Homo sapiens: one gene and its partner. The protein of the gene in region 1 purifies or fractionates together with the protein of each later gene. This does not show direct contact. Each region holds a gene or a part of one and is shown on either strand. Other genes may lie near its edges.

The links. The genes of interacting proteins can lie anywhere in the genome.
Region 2: the proteins of SENP8 (region 1) and PSTPIP2 fractionate together in Homo sapiens (co-fractionation; one large-scale study listed by BioGRID). This does not show direct contact.

Annotation. Positions count from the first base shown.
Region 1 is NC_000015.10:72,135,403-72,138,902, forward strand, and holds part of SENP8 (sentrin-specific protease 8), read left to right. Parts: intron 1-3,500. UniProt on the Homo sapiens protein: Protease that catalyzes two essential functions in the NEDD8 pathway: processing of full-length NEDD8 to its mature form and deconjugation of NEDD8 from targeted proteins such as cullins or p53.
Region 2 is NC_000018.10:46,002,761-46,006,260, forward strand, and holds part of PSTPIP2 (proline-serine-threonine phosphatase-interacting protein 2), read right to left. Parts: intron 2,772-3,500; coding exon 2,709-2,771; intron 1-2,708. UniProt on the Homo sapiens protein: Binds to F-actin. May be involved in regulation of the actin cytoskeleton.

The sequences.
Region 1 (3,500 bases):
GGGCTGCTGGTAGGTGTTAAAAAAAAAAAAACTCTGGACTATAAAAAATAAAAATAGAAAATATTTTCACTTTACAGAAAAGGAAAGTGAGAGTTAAGGAAATTTAGTAATTTATTTATGATCACACAGCCAATGAGTAACAGAATTGAATCTAAAATTTAAGTCTTCAAATACGAAGTTTAGAGTTATTTTTGGCAAAGGGTGGGTTTGGCTAAAGGCTAGTTGAGTTCTATTTGCATTAGAATTTTTGGAGTTAAACTTGCTGTCATGCTGTATGGAACAGAATTAAGGCCTTGATTAACATTTTGTCTATGTGCTTGGTATTTTAAAAATCAAACAGACAAAACACAAAAACTATTTCTGAAGAAAATCTTAGCCCAGCTTGTGGACATTCCCTTCAAGGTGAGAGATGACTGACTGTTGAGGCAGTCTTCTTGCAGGTTCCTTTCCCTAGTTGGGTTGGTGTTGAAGACTGGGTGTGATTTCAGCAGGCAGTGTAGAGAGTAGGTCTCCGGGTTTTTGCCAAGCTATATGACCTGGCACTCACAAGTATGCAGTGTTTATTGAAGACATGAGAGACAGATGCTGTAGCCAGGGAGCAGTCATTCTGCCTTTATATTATAAACTCTTACATCAAGTCACATCGACAAGCTGATTACCTAAACTCTGTCAAATTGCTTTTGTTTGATTGATCTGTGCCCATTTGCCATAAGGCTAGATAGTAAAGATTATTATAGGAAACAATCCTGTCTGTTTCATCTGTTGTAAGGATACTGTGAGGCACTATTTGTTATGATGCACCATGTCTTTTATGAAAATCTCTTGAGAAAAAACTATCGGACTATAATACAAAGAATTATTTTACCTCTCCTGAGCAATTGCTTTGTTTTTGTCTTATGGACATTGTGAATGTTTACCTTTCTCTGGCCAGATGCCAAAAAGCTTAGAGCCAAATTTGTGGCCCACCCATAACAAATGTGCTCTATGCCTCATTAACTTCATTCTTGGCTCCAGTTTATGTCTCTCCACTAGTCTTTTTTTCTTAAGAAGATCCTAATTCATGCCATCTTATTATATATTTTTTCTTTTTTCTCATAAGTAGCCTTATGTTGTTTCTCAAATAGTCAGATTATGACATACTGTGTCTACATAAAACCATGTTGGATGCCCCTTCATTTACTTTGGCTTTTTTTCTTGAGGGGTGTATTGATTTTTCATATAGGTTTTTGCAGCGTTTTGTTACACGAAAATGGTTATATCACAAAAATTATTGCTTAATAGTGTAGACAAGTGGTAAAATAACTGGTCTAATGGTCAGAATTGATTAAATTGATGTCATAATTCTAGTCTTGTCTTTTACAGCATTATTACTATTTTCTTATAATATGCTTTGTTTTGCACTCTCAATCTGCATGTGACAGTTTATTGCTGTGTGATTTTCAGAAATATTGTCGTGCTGCCAGGTCACTGCATAACAGCTAACTCTCTGTTAACTCTGTTGAGTCTGTTAGGCTCAAATATTCTACACCCATCAGACTTGTCTCACTTTGGGTGGTCACAGGCATATTAATTTCATCACACAACTTGTCTTGCTTCTCCTCTAAATTAGTCATTCTTTTATTTAGACAAGATAATGTGAATGGATATTTGTTTTCAAACCTCATTTTCTTTGATTGGTTTGGAGCTCTAGCTGGATTTTCTGATTATCTTACTAATGTCATCTAATTGATAAATATTATTGTACAACTTTTTAAACTCTTTTAGTACTTCCAAGTAAAATTATTTGGTCTTCTCTACAACTCTCTAGGGTATGTAAGGTGGGTATATGCCTTTTTTACAGATGGCATACAAAAATGATTAAATGATTTTATATGCCATCTGTAAAAAAGGCGTATACCTTTTTAGAAAAACAAGGACAAAGTCATTTAAATGACTGCTCAAGATGATACCAGCAAATCAGTGGTAAAACTAGGACTAGACCCAGGTTTCCAGAATCTTATCCCATACTACCTTTTAAAAGAAGTCAAAAGAAGTTCTAACTTATATTGTAAACATTACTTCATCTTTATCATACCCCTTGAAGCTAAAGCTATGAAACAGGCAAACACATGTTATATCACTCATGCTCATAGCAGGGCAGAATCAGGAATGAATTTCATTTGTATTAGTCTCATGATTCTCTGTTTTTAAAATTACAGTTCCTTTTAACTACTACCGTAATCACTGTCACGTTCCATTATGGAAGGAGGAAGCAATATTTTATCTTATCTTTTGAAAATTAATGTTGAGGCCAGGCGCGGTGGCTCACGTCTGTAATCCCAGCACTTTGGGTGGCTGAGGTGGGTGGATCACGAGGTCAGGAGATCGAGACCATCCTGGCTAACACAGTGAAACCCCGTCTCTACTAAAAATACAAAGAATTAGCCGGGTGTTGTGGCGGGCGCCTGTAGTCCCAGCTACTTGGGAGGCTGAGGCAGGAGAATGGTGTGAACCCGGGAAGCGGAGTTTGCAGTGAGCCAGGATCGCGCCACTGCACTCCAGCCTGGGTGACAGTGCGAGACTCCATCTCAAAAAAAAAAAGAAAAAGAAAATTAGTGTTGAAATGAAAAGTATTTCCCTTGGAAATTAGTAACTTTTTAGATTCTTTGAATTCATCTTTAATATAAAAATAATTTGTTGTCATTATGCATATTCATTAAGGAGCCAAATAATACAGTTAATGGTATGGTGTTTGGTAAAACATTAGCTATAATTTTAATCTCTGTGCTTCAAGAGGATATTTAAAATTCATGCTTACTGTGTACATGGCAAGTTTCCAGTTCTCATTCTAACTAATCGTTTACATGTAGCACATAAGCTAGAATTTCTTATAGTTACAGTTGACCCTTGAACAACACAGGGGCTAGGAGTGCCAACCCCCGTATGCAGTCAAAATTCTAGGTATAACTTTTTTTTTTTTTTTTTTGAGATGGAGTCTTGCTCTGTTGCCCAGGCTGGAGCGCAATGGCATGATCTCAGCTCACTGCAACCTCCACCTTCCAGGTTCAAGCAGTTCTCCCACCTCAGCCTTTCGAGTAGCTGGGATTACAGGCATGCCCCACCACGCCCGGCTAATTTTTGTATTTTTAGTAGAGATGGGGTTTCACCATGTTGGCCAGGCTGGTCTCAAACTCCTGACCTCAAGTGATCTGCCCACCTTGGCCTCCCAAAGTGCTGGGATTTCAGGCGTGAGCCACAGCACCCAGCCTAGGTGTAGGATTTGACTCCCTAAAAAAATACGCCAGGTGCGGTGGCTCACGCCTGTAATTCCAGCACTTTGGGAGGCTGAGGCGGGCGGATCACAAGGTCAGGAATTCGAGACCAGCCTGGCTGATATGGCGAAACCCTGTCTCTACTAAAAATACAAAAAAAAATTAGCCGGGCATGGTGGCACATGCCTGTAATCCCAGCTACTCAGGAGGTTGAGTCAAAAGAATCGCTTCAACCCAGGAGGCAGAGGT
Region 2 (3,500 bases), on another chromosome or scaffold:
GCCTGGGCAACATTGTGAGACCCCCCCATCTCAAAAAAAGTGTCTTTGTAATTGCTTGCTGAATATTTTGATAGTGGATGCTGTAAAATCTTCGTCACATAATTCCAACATCTCTGTTATCTAGATCTTGGCAGCTATTGATTGTCTTTCTTTTCATGGAGTTTCGTATCTTTCTGGTATGAAGAGTGATATTTGATTGATTTGGGGGAATTTTTGGTATTATGTTACAAGACTCTGGATTTTATTTAAGGCTTCTGTTTTAGCTAGCTTCCTCAGGACACCACTCCAGCAGGGGAAGGTGAGGCATCATCTCATTACTGTCATGTGAGTGTGAAAGTCCAGGTTTCCCCTCCTTGGTCTCCACTGACACCACAGAGTGTGTGTGACCCAGTTACTACTGGAAAGTGGTTAAAGTTCTCACTCTCCACTAGACCTCCTTAGACACCATCCCAGGAGGGAGAGGGTGTACATCATTATTTCCCGGTGCAGGTGGAAGTCAGGGTTCCCCACATAGCTCCCAATAACACTGTGTAGAGGAGGCTCTGTTACCTCCTGGTGGGAGTGAAAGTCCTGGTCCCCTATTTGTTCTCTGTTGCCACCTTGGCAGGGGAGTTGGGTGCTCTCTACAGCCTGGTGTGGTGGAAGTTTAGACTCTCCACTTGGCCTTTGCTGATGTGTGGAGGTGGGTCCCCAGGTTTTTTACGTGGTGTTTGGCTGCAGTAGAATGGTTATTTTCTAAAGTTTCTGTCCTGCTAGGCTGCCCCTTTTCTGGTCTTTTGGTTAGAGAGAACAGGTTTTTCTTGGAGCTTTTTATTTATTTTTTTTATTTTTTTAATTTTTGGTCTATGACCATTGGCATTTCTGGGATGCCTGCTTCTTTGGCACTCAGTCTGTGATAAATGAGGCAAAAAGAAAGCCCAGGGAACCCTTGTCAGGTTGTTCTTTGAGTCCAAGGTCACTAGCCAGTGTGCCTTCTTCTCTCCCCCTTTCAGAGTTTTTTTTTTTTTTTTTGAGACAGAGTTTCACTCTTGTTGCCCAGGCTGGAGTATGCAATAGTGCGATCTCGGCTCACCGCAACCTCCACCTCCTGGGTTCAAGCGATTCTCCTGCCTCAACTTCCCAAGTAGCTGGGATTACAGGTGCACACCACCACACCCAGCTAATTTTTTTTTTTTTTGTATTTTTAGTAGAGTCGCGGTTTTGCCATGTTGGCCAGGCTGGTCTCGAACTCCTGACCTCAGGTGATCCACCTGCCTCGGCCTCCCGAAGTGCTGGGATTACAGGTGTGAGCCACTATACCCAGCCAGAAAGTTATATTTTGATAAGCCTTTCTCTTTAATTATAAAAAATCTTGCCCCAGATTGTTTAAAATATAAAAGGTCTGGGAAAAATCATCTATCAACTAACACTATTTCTGTATTACACTGACATCATTCCCTATTTATCAATTGTTTTTGAGGGATTTCTGCATCAAGGAGAAAAAGAATGCAGCAGAACAGATTGCATATGCTATCAACACTGGTGACACTTCCCTATTACATCCTACTCGTAGAATATCATGATGATACTTCGGTGTCAAGATGGAGTCATATATGTTCTAATAACAGAGTTTGTTGTATCCAGAGTCAACAGATACATAAAAGCTAGAGAGAGATTTCTAGCAACTTGTCCAATCTCTGTCTTGCCAACATTTTTTAAATAAATTACTTAAAGGAAAAGTTTTTATAATTTTCAGATATCTTAAAACAGAAAGGGATCACTCAATAAAATAGGTAAGCAATCAAGATTCAAAATAGTAACAGGGTAAAATTGCAAATTCTATAAGATAAAGGGTATTGTACACTATATATGTTTTTGTATCTTTGCCTAAAATATTTGAACTGACTTGCTATATTTTCTCGGGTTACCAGAAAGATAACCCTGTTGCATTTCCACTATCTAGTGTCACTTTCAATCTTTCCAAGGCCTTAAAAAAAGAAAAACCTTATACACTGTTGGTGGGAGTATAAATTGGTTCAACCATTGTGGAAAGCAGTATGGAGATTCCTCAAAGAACTAAAAGCAGAACTACCATTTGACCCAGCAATCCCATTACTGGGTATACACCCAGAGGAATATAAAGCATTCTACCCTAAAGACACATGCACGTGAATGTTCATTGCAGCACTGTTCATAATAGCAAAGACACGGAATCAACCTAAATGCCAATCAATGACAGACTGGATAAAGAATATGTGGTACATATACACCATGGAATACTATGCAACCATAAAAAAGAATGAAATCATGTCTTTTGAGGAAACATGGATAGAACTGGAGGCTATCATCCTTAGCAAACTAATGCAGGAACAGAAAACCAAATACCACATGTTCTCACTTATAAGTGGGAGCTAAATGATAAGAACTTATGAATATAAAGAAGGAAATAACAGACACTGGGGTCTAATTGAGAGGGAGGGTGAGAGGAGGGAGAGGAGCAGAAAAGATAACTATTGGGTACTGAACTTAATCTCTGGGTAATGTAATAATATGTACAACAACAACAAAAAAGAAAACCCAAAGCATTTAAGGTTGTTTTCCCTAAAACACTGCACTAATAAATAATAACATTTTTGAAATGTTATTTGAGTAGGAATATGTTCATACACAGCACAGGATTTCAGAAAATGTCACCATTATCCCAAAAAAGACAATAAAATGTGACTCACATCCATGGTTTTCTTGAATTGTAAGCTCTTTTGTTTATGGATAGCATCCATTATGAGCTCTGTCTGTAAAGAGATCATAAACACTCTTAATAAAAACACAAATCATTATTAATAAAAACAGAAATCATTATCAATACCAGCTTATCTTGAGGGTTAAGTGTTCAAAATGATTACCCACATTTCACAATCTTCAGAGAAAAGAGACCAAACAATTTGCCTAAGCTCTTATTCCTAGCTAATAACGGGGCCCATCTTTGAACTTGTGCAGGCAAACACCAAAGCCTGAACTCTCAGACACAGTGGAGACTCACTGATCACCTTAGAGCAGTCTCTTCAGTAAAATCTGGAATCAAGGAACTTTGGTTTCAAAAAGGAATTTTAAAACTTTTGTTAAAGTGCCATTTATATTTTAAAAGAGGTCTTTATTCTATAAGTATACATCAGCACAGTTAAATTCGGTACTTGTAAACATTCATTTCTGCAGCCCATCAGTGACACATCCATGACCATCAGGGTGCCCGGGCAGTATGAAGGAAAAAAGAATTTGTAAGACAACTAAAAGAAGCTGTTCTGTTACTCTTTTATTCCATTTTTTTATTTTTTAAGACAGAGTCTCACTCTGTCACCCAGGCTGGAGTGCAGTGGCATGATCTCAGCTGACTACAACCTCTGCCTCCTGGGTTCAAGCAATTCTCGTGCCTCAGCCTCCAGAGTAGCTGGGATTACAAGCCTGCACCACCACACCTGGCTAATTTTTGCACTTTTAGTAGAGATGGGGTTTCACCTTGTTGG